Linked DNA regions of Homo sapiens. The protein of the gene in region 1 interacts with the protein of each later gene in a pairwise test. Each region holds a gene or a part of one and is shown in the gene's direction. Other genes may lie near its edges. The genes, in order: ZNF521 and PICALM.

The links.
Region 2: the proteins of ZNF521 (region 1) and PICALM interact in a two-hybrid assay, tested with the Homo sapiens proteins (one large-scale study listed by IntAct).

Annotation. Positions count from the first base shown.
Region 1 is NC_000018.10:25,341,931-25,345,756, reverse strand, and holds part of ZNF521 (zinc finger protein 521), read left to right. Parts: intron 1-409; exon of another isoform or gene 410-505; intron 506-3,826. UniProt on the Homo sapiens protein: Transcription factor that can both act as an activator or a repressor depending on the context. Involved in BMP signaling and in the regulation of the immature compartment of the hematopoietic system.
Region 2 is NC_000011.10:85,999,306-86,003,131, reverse strand, and holds part of PICALM (phosphatidylinositol-binding clathrin assembly protein), read left to right. Parts: intron 1-1,973; coding exon 1,974-2,097; intron 2,098-2,352; coding exon 2,353-2,489; intron 2,490-3,826. UniProt on the Homo sapiens protein: Cytoplasmic adapter protein that plays a critical role in clathrin-mediated endocytosis which is important in processes such as internalization of cell receptors, synaptic transmission or removal of apoptotic cells.

The DNA of each region.
Region 1 (3,826 bases):
GTTGAAGTCATTAAATTCATTATAGTCCAATCAGTAGACAATCCGACATAAACAAAAACAGCAATTACAGTTGGCAAGGATCCCATGAGTGCTAGTCAAAGTTCCAGAACTGATGGTCCAGTGAGTCTCTTCCAAAACGCCGGTTTCACGATTTCAGCACTTCTGGCAGCATCTTCCTAAAGTGAGGGCACACAAATTCATAAGATTCCACTTGGCCTTAAAAACAAAAACATCTGTTTTATGCATGAGTGGATTGTTGTCTTTTATTCATCCAGCCAAAAAAGGACAAAAAATAGGATACTGAACATAAAAGCATACATGTAAAAATGAAATTACAAAGGGATTTGAGATTAGCAAGCAGCCTTTTATAAAGCAAGCTGTTAATAATTTTTCTTTTTTGTTTTGCCAGAGTATTTCCATATCCTTTAAAAACCACTGTAGTTATCCTTACTGACAGCAGTGACGTCTAACAGTGATGACAGAATTTTTCAACTTTTTGCTTCCGGTAATTATACTTAGTTCTTTGTACTTGCTTATTTGGTCTAGTGCAAGACTCGTAGCATATTTGTAGGAGATTTCTTTTCACCTTAGAGGAACATTTGTACCTGCCTCCCTCTATTTTTAAAGGAGTCTGTTTGTGAGGGCTCGTTAGTCTGGTAAATTCTAGTTAAATACTTGTTGACATAAGTTGAAGCATATTATTAAGTATACTTGCTTGAGTTTTCATTTTGATGTAAAAGCATGTAATAAGAAGAAAGAGGTTTTGATAGTAGAAAAGAGTAGGTCTACTAAGATCAATTAAGAATTTTATTAAGGGTCTCTTTTTCCTATTAATGTGTTTTATTAATTCATCTGTCAGGATTCACATTGCTGGTTTACTGTCATTAATTCTGTTGCCACAGAATACATTCCTCATGGCTGGATTTAATGGATACTATGTTCAGTTTTTCAGTTAATTTTAAGAGGGAAAGTGATTTTAAGACTTGCAGTATTTGTTTATTTTAGCAGCTGTCTGCATCATTAAAAATGTAAATATTATCATTAAGTAAGATGTGAAAGAATGCTTTTGAATTGAATGAGATTTTGATACAAAGGCTGATATTCCACGTCAAACCTGTAGCTAAGTATTTTCCCAGATGTATTTAATTTTTTTCTTCATTGACTCCTGTTGTGCTGTCAAAGGTTAAAGTTAGTTCTAGGGGTGGGGGAGATGCATGCAACTTTCTAATTCCATTTCAATTAAATCTGAAATGTTCCTGTTTTTTGTTTGGGGACTACATGGTGCTAGGATTGCATATACCTTGTTTGTTGTAGTGAAAGCGTACTTGTCTGATTTAAAATATGTTCTGCAACAGTGTTATTACAAAGCAATTAAAACTTAAACATTAAAGTTAACATTAGTAAATTTAAATAGCTCTGTTATAGTATTAATCAAATAGTGTAAGGAAAGCTTTTAAATGGTTTAAATAATTATGCAACTCCTGGCATAAAAAGCCCGACACAAGATAAATCTCTGAAAACTAAGTAGAATCGCAGCTTTTTTTTTTTTTTTAATAAAAAACTTTAATTTTAGGCACCTTGGGCTTTTAGCATGCATCACATTCCACCTCTAGTATAAGTAATTATGCCAGTTTAGTAATTATTAGAGATGAAAGAAATTCAGTAAGATATGAATTCTTTAAAACTTCAGTAGCTTCAGTTTTAGCAGGGATAATGATCAAGCAGCAGTTATCCTGCTGCCTGGGGACCCTGCCACAGCTACAAGCACTGGGCTGATCTTGTGGGTATCATTATTATGGCAGCACATACTATAGTTAGTATTTCTACTCTAGTTGTCAGATTGCAGAGGTTTATAATTTGGTCATTAAACAAATTTAGATTCCAATATGACTGTGTAAAAACTCCCCTTTCTTAGAACACTTTTTAAAAAAAGATTAAGTTTAAAAATTATTATTTTGGGGCAGCATCTCTTTTAATTCTATGGGATAGTAAATGCTTTGAAAAATCCTGAAAAGAAAAAAAATGTGTATGCCTGTCATTTTTATGTGTGTATGTGTTAGGTACGTGTTCATTTTGAATCTTATTTTTAAATAAAGATGATTTGGTTTGGAAAGCATATATACTATTCCCGCATGATCATAGCTCTCCCAATCTGAGCAAGGTCAAGTGATTGACATTCAGAATATTTGTTTTCATAATAGTGCAGTTTGTTGGATTTATATTTCAATATTTTGGTTATGATAATTTTTTTGTATATGTGAAACCCAAGAGTTTACGTCCCTCAGTTATCACAACATATTGTGACACACACATACATAGTCTATATACACGGAAACATACTCTAAACCTTCTGTAGGAAATGCACTTTGTTTAGTAAGTCCATATAAGTGTTAATAATGTTTTAAGGGAAAAATTGGATTTTTTTCCAATTAAAATTGGTGTCAAAGAATAAGATTTCCTTTTTGAAATTAAAATCAGCGTATCATTGAGTCTCATTATTTCACTGACTTTATTACCTTCTCTTTCCATCTTATGATTGGCTTTTTCTCAAAATTTATTATCCCATCAGTATACTGTGAAGGATATGATATGTCAAGATGGAAACTTATTTACCTGATAGGGACAAAATCCTCATTGATTACAGACAGTTCCATATATTCATACAAAATACATTTGTTGAAACCTGTAGTGAGGTGAACAGTCCACACAGTAAACTATAACTTGCCATATTATAGGAGTTTCTGTGACCTGGAATCTAAAAAATATCACTGTGCTTTAAACTTTATATTGACTTCAAGAAACAATTTCCAGCATTTCATACGTGTTCTTAGCTAATATTCTTATCTTTCACAATAGAGCCAGATTAGGTCCAGTTAGTGCTTGAATAAGACTACATATTAATTGCTTTCAGCATTCCTAATGATTTAGGTTGTCTTAGTTGTGTTAAGTTTATCAGACATATGCTTTTTATTACCACTATCAGCACCTTTTGTCTTTCATTGATTACTTTTATACATTAAGAAAAAGAAGGCCAGGCGCGGTGGCTCACGCCTGTAATCCCAGCACTTTGGGAGGCCGAGGCGGGCGGATCACGAGGTCAGGAGATCGAGACCATCCTGGCTAACACGGTGAAACCCCGTCTCTACTAAAAATACAAAAAATTAGCCGGGCGTGGTGACGGGCGCCTGTAGTCCCAGCTACTTGGGAGGCTGAGGCAGGAGAATGGCGGGAACCTGGGAGGCGGAGCTTTCAGTGAGCCAAGATGGCTCCACTGCACTCCGGGCTCCAGCCTGGGCGACAGAGCGAGACTCTGTCTCAAAAAAAACAAACAAACAAACAAAAAAAAAACAAAGGAAAGAAAAGGAAAAAGGCTGTAAAGTCTTCACAAACATTGATCTACCAAGTACTAATGAAGCCAAAACAGAATCATTGCTTGAATGCTGATGTATGGAGTCTGAAGTTCCTATACATAGGGGGGTTTGGGGTTGTCAGTGTGCAACTTGCAAAGTTGTATGATGTTTTGCAGACATGAGGCAAGGGTTAAGAAGAACTGTGGGCTCAAGGGAGTGCATATTAATTCCTGGAAAGAGTTGAAAATAAAAACAAACAGTTATGGTCATAAGTATTGTGACTTGGATACTAGTGCTTGTAGGGAAATGGTTGCAGAGCAGGAAGAGCACGGGGGCATACTCTGATTTGCTGTGTGTTTTGGCAAGCCATTTACCCTCTGTACTCTAGGATTTAGACTTTCTGTCACTAAAATGAGGAAGCTTATTCATCATTTAACAAGTTCTGGGGGTTTTTGTTTTGTTGTGTTTTGGTTTTT
Region 2 (3,826 bases), on another chromosome or scaffold:
TGACAGTGACTGCATAGTTTAGAATTGTGTTTATGATGTCAAAATTTCTCCTAAAGATGCTAATGCATTGTTTTATGTGGTGCTTTGTAGTTATAAGATACATTTTTTTTTTCTTCCCCCGAGGCAGAGTCTCACTCTATTGCCCAGGCTGGAGTGCAGTGGCACAATCTCAACTCACTTGCAACTTCCACCTCCTGGGTTCAAGCGATTCTCCCACCTCAGCCTCCCAAGGGTGGGACTACAGATGCATGCCACCACGGCCGGCTAATTTTTGTATTTTTAGTAGAGACAGGGTTTCACCATGTTGAGCAGGCTGGTCTCGAACCCCTGAACTCAAGTGATCTGCACACCTCAGCCTCCCAAAGTGCTGGGATTACAGGCATGAACCACCGTGCCAGGCCTATAATTGCAAGATACTTTCGTATTAATTTGCTCAATCCTCACAATAGCCCTGTGAAGTATGTAGTAGCAATGCTGGGACTCAAACCTAGAATATCTGACATCAAATTGCATCATCTCTGCCTAATGCCAGTTCATGGGGTTGATTATTGATATTTTATATTTTAATCACTTTATTATGTTTTAAGCTAATTCCTCAGACTAAGACCATTTAACCTAGCAAATTGAAAGTAACAGAAATCATTTCATATCAGTCTGGTAACATGATTTTTGTATTGGGTTAAGAAATTACTTGAGTTATTCTCATGTTTTCTTATGAACCTTTTTTTAAAACAGCATGAAGAAAGAATTTGTATAGTGAGAACCTTCCTTTGGTTCTTTTTAGACTTTCTGGTTGTTTCAGAACTTTTGATCTTTCTTTTAGTAATAAAATTTAAATAATTTCCAAAGGGAAATGCCGTTATTGGATTTTAGTACTCATTTTTAATCCTAGATTTGTACTTTGAATTTTCTAGTAAGATTTTCGAAGTAGCAGTCAAAACAATAAGTCTCATTTATTTGAGAGAATAACGAAAAAAAGAGCCACGTAGTTCAGGTGCACCAATTTACCTGAAATGTTTATCATAAAATTTATTGGTTTTCTTGCATTTCTGTCACAACTATGTTATTCTTCCTTTGTCTTCTGAATTGTACCTTTTTATTGGCTTATTTATAATACTAATATTACATAAAATTTAAAAGGTAGTTTTTACCACTTTACGTGCTTAAGAGTAGAAACTAATGATGTTTGGTGTGTGGTAAAAGGAAAATTAATAAAGCTCAAGGTAGTTCTTCAGGTTAGAATTCTTTACCACTTGTTTTACTTAGCCTAGAGTTAACATTTGGAAAGTTAATGTTGAGGTTTATAGTGTGGATACGTTTTTGATAAAAGGGAAAGGAGGTGCCTTGCCAGTGAAAAATGATACATTGTACATGTATATTAAAAAGGAAATTCTGGTTTGGCAAAAGGGCAGCACATAGAAAGATGCCAAATGGCCTGATGACTAGATTGAAACCAGTCTTCTTTTGAAGGAACCTGAAGTCCTCTGGGGATGTTGTTATAGGTGAAACATACCTAGACTTACGTTACGTGTTACTGGTATGCATGTTTTGGTGTTCCTGTGGCACTGCCGAAACGTAGGCTGTAAATTAGCAGAGGGTTTTCCCTGTGATAAACTCAACACTTTTTCCCATCAGGGATTTTGTGGGATTATGTGGGCTCTTTCCCAATTGCACTGGTTTCCTCTCTTGGGGCTTGGAAGAGGCAATGTGCCCCACTCTGTTGTGAACCCTTTCCAAAGTCAAACACTTACTCTGAAAGCAGTGAGTGTATATTAAGTCAAGATTTTTCTAATTGCTTTAATCCTGTAGATCACTAGGTAGAATATTTCATCTGAAGTACTGGATTTGAATCCAGAAGTTAAGTTTATAATTATAGTGCCTATCCATGGCAAGGTTGCCAGACCATTTCATGACCTGGGTGTAATGTGAAGTGTTTAGCAAAAAGCCAAATTATCTCTGTTCAATTATCCTAGGGCAACTACACTTTCCAATGCAGTGTCTTCCCTGGCAAGCACTGGTCTATCTCTGACCAAAGTGGATGAAAGGGAAAAGCAGGCAGCATTAGAGGAAGAACAGGCACGTTTGAAAGCTTTAAAGGTAAGTTTGTGCATTCTCCTTATTTCGAAAAATGAGTACAGGTGTTCATTAGGTAAATGGGGCCTCTGCACAGACTTAGAGTCTTAAATGTATAGCTACCTAATGGGCTGAAACTCAGTCTAACTTTTCGTCCTGACATAGAATTAGGTAAAACAGAATATCTGCTATCAGAACAAATTAGAAAATGCTTTTTTCAGAGGCTGTACAAAGAAATCTGGTTTCTGGAATCCTTATGGTAGTTCCCTTTCTTAACAGGAACAGCGCCTAAAAGAACTTGCAAAGAAACCTCATACCTCTTTAACAACTGCAGCCTCTCCTGTATCCACCTCAGCAGGAGGGATAATGACTGCACCAGCCATTGACATATTTTCTACCCCTAGTTCTTCTAACAGGTAGGAGTAGAAGTTAAGGTTACCTTTGAATATGTAGGTTCAAAGACTTCTAATAGAAATTTTGCAGAACTTTTCAGGTTTACTTTTATTTATGCTTTTATAATCTATTCACACAAAGAGGTGGCGATAAATGGTGATATTGGTATAATACCTAAAGATAAAGTGATGAGTTTATATTTTACGTATTTACGAAATGGAAGATAGTTAAATCACTGATTTATACTAATAGGAATATAGCTGTTATCTCTGGGCCAACTTTTCATTGTGTAAAAATTATGATTAAACACATTTATGAGGCATCTAATGGTTCAAGACCCTTTATAGCTCTTTGACATATGGATATGATATATATTTCAAAATACCATTTCATTAGATATTAAACGTCTGTCATATCTGTTTCCTGGTTTTAAACTCTGTAATCTGGAACACAGTGACAGAGTTTAGTTGCCAGGTTTCTTGGTATTGAAGCCTACCAGACTAACTTTAATAATCTTGTTGTCTAATTTAAGCTACTTAACATGGAAATATAATATTGCCAGGTAAAGTAAAACAATTGGCATTTTCTGAACCTCAGAGTGGCTTAAAGTAGTTTTAAAAGTCAGATTCTGGTTTGAATCCTGGCTCTGTTAGTTCTTAACTTTTTTTGAGAAACCTTGTTTTCAGATGAGACTGTGGTTCTCAACTTTAACATCAGAAGCATTTGGAGAGTTTATTAAACTACAGATATCTGAGTCCCAATCCTAGAGTTTTGATTCAGTAGGTGGGGCCTGGGGCCCAAGAATTTTTGTTTTTAAGATGCTCCCAGGTGACTAGGTTTTAGCACAGTGCATTATTAGCACATGTTAAATGTTCCATAGAGAGTGGTGAGTTTTTTCCTTTCACTTTGTTGTTGCTGTTTATTAACTCACCCTTAAAAGCTCATCTGCCTGCCTACTGACTCCTAATAGCTGAGCCTAATAGCTCAGTGTAAGTTTTACTACGTGAACTGCTTGCTGTATGCATGCTCAGTTGCTACCTGCTCCCTGAAATCTTAGTAGGTGTTTGTTGAATTTAGTTCTTTTTTTTCTTTCAGCTTTATGATTTGTTTGCTCATGTATGCTACCTTCTTTAATCCCCAGTTAAGTAACATTGACCCCATTAAGGGGCAAGTTCTCAACATGGAGATCTTGAAAAGAAGTCTGTCCTAGGAGAAAGAAGTGAAAAGAATGTTCATTGTTCGAGGCTGAAACAAATTATTGGATAAAGAACTAATTTCACTATGTTTTATGTCACATACTAAAAATTTTCACCTTTTTAATAGTAATTAAGGGCAAATCTTACAGCCCATTTACAGAATT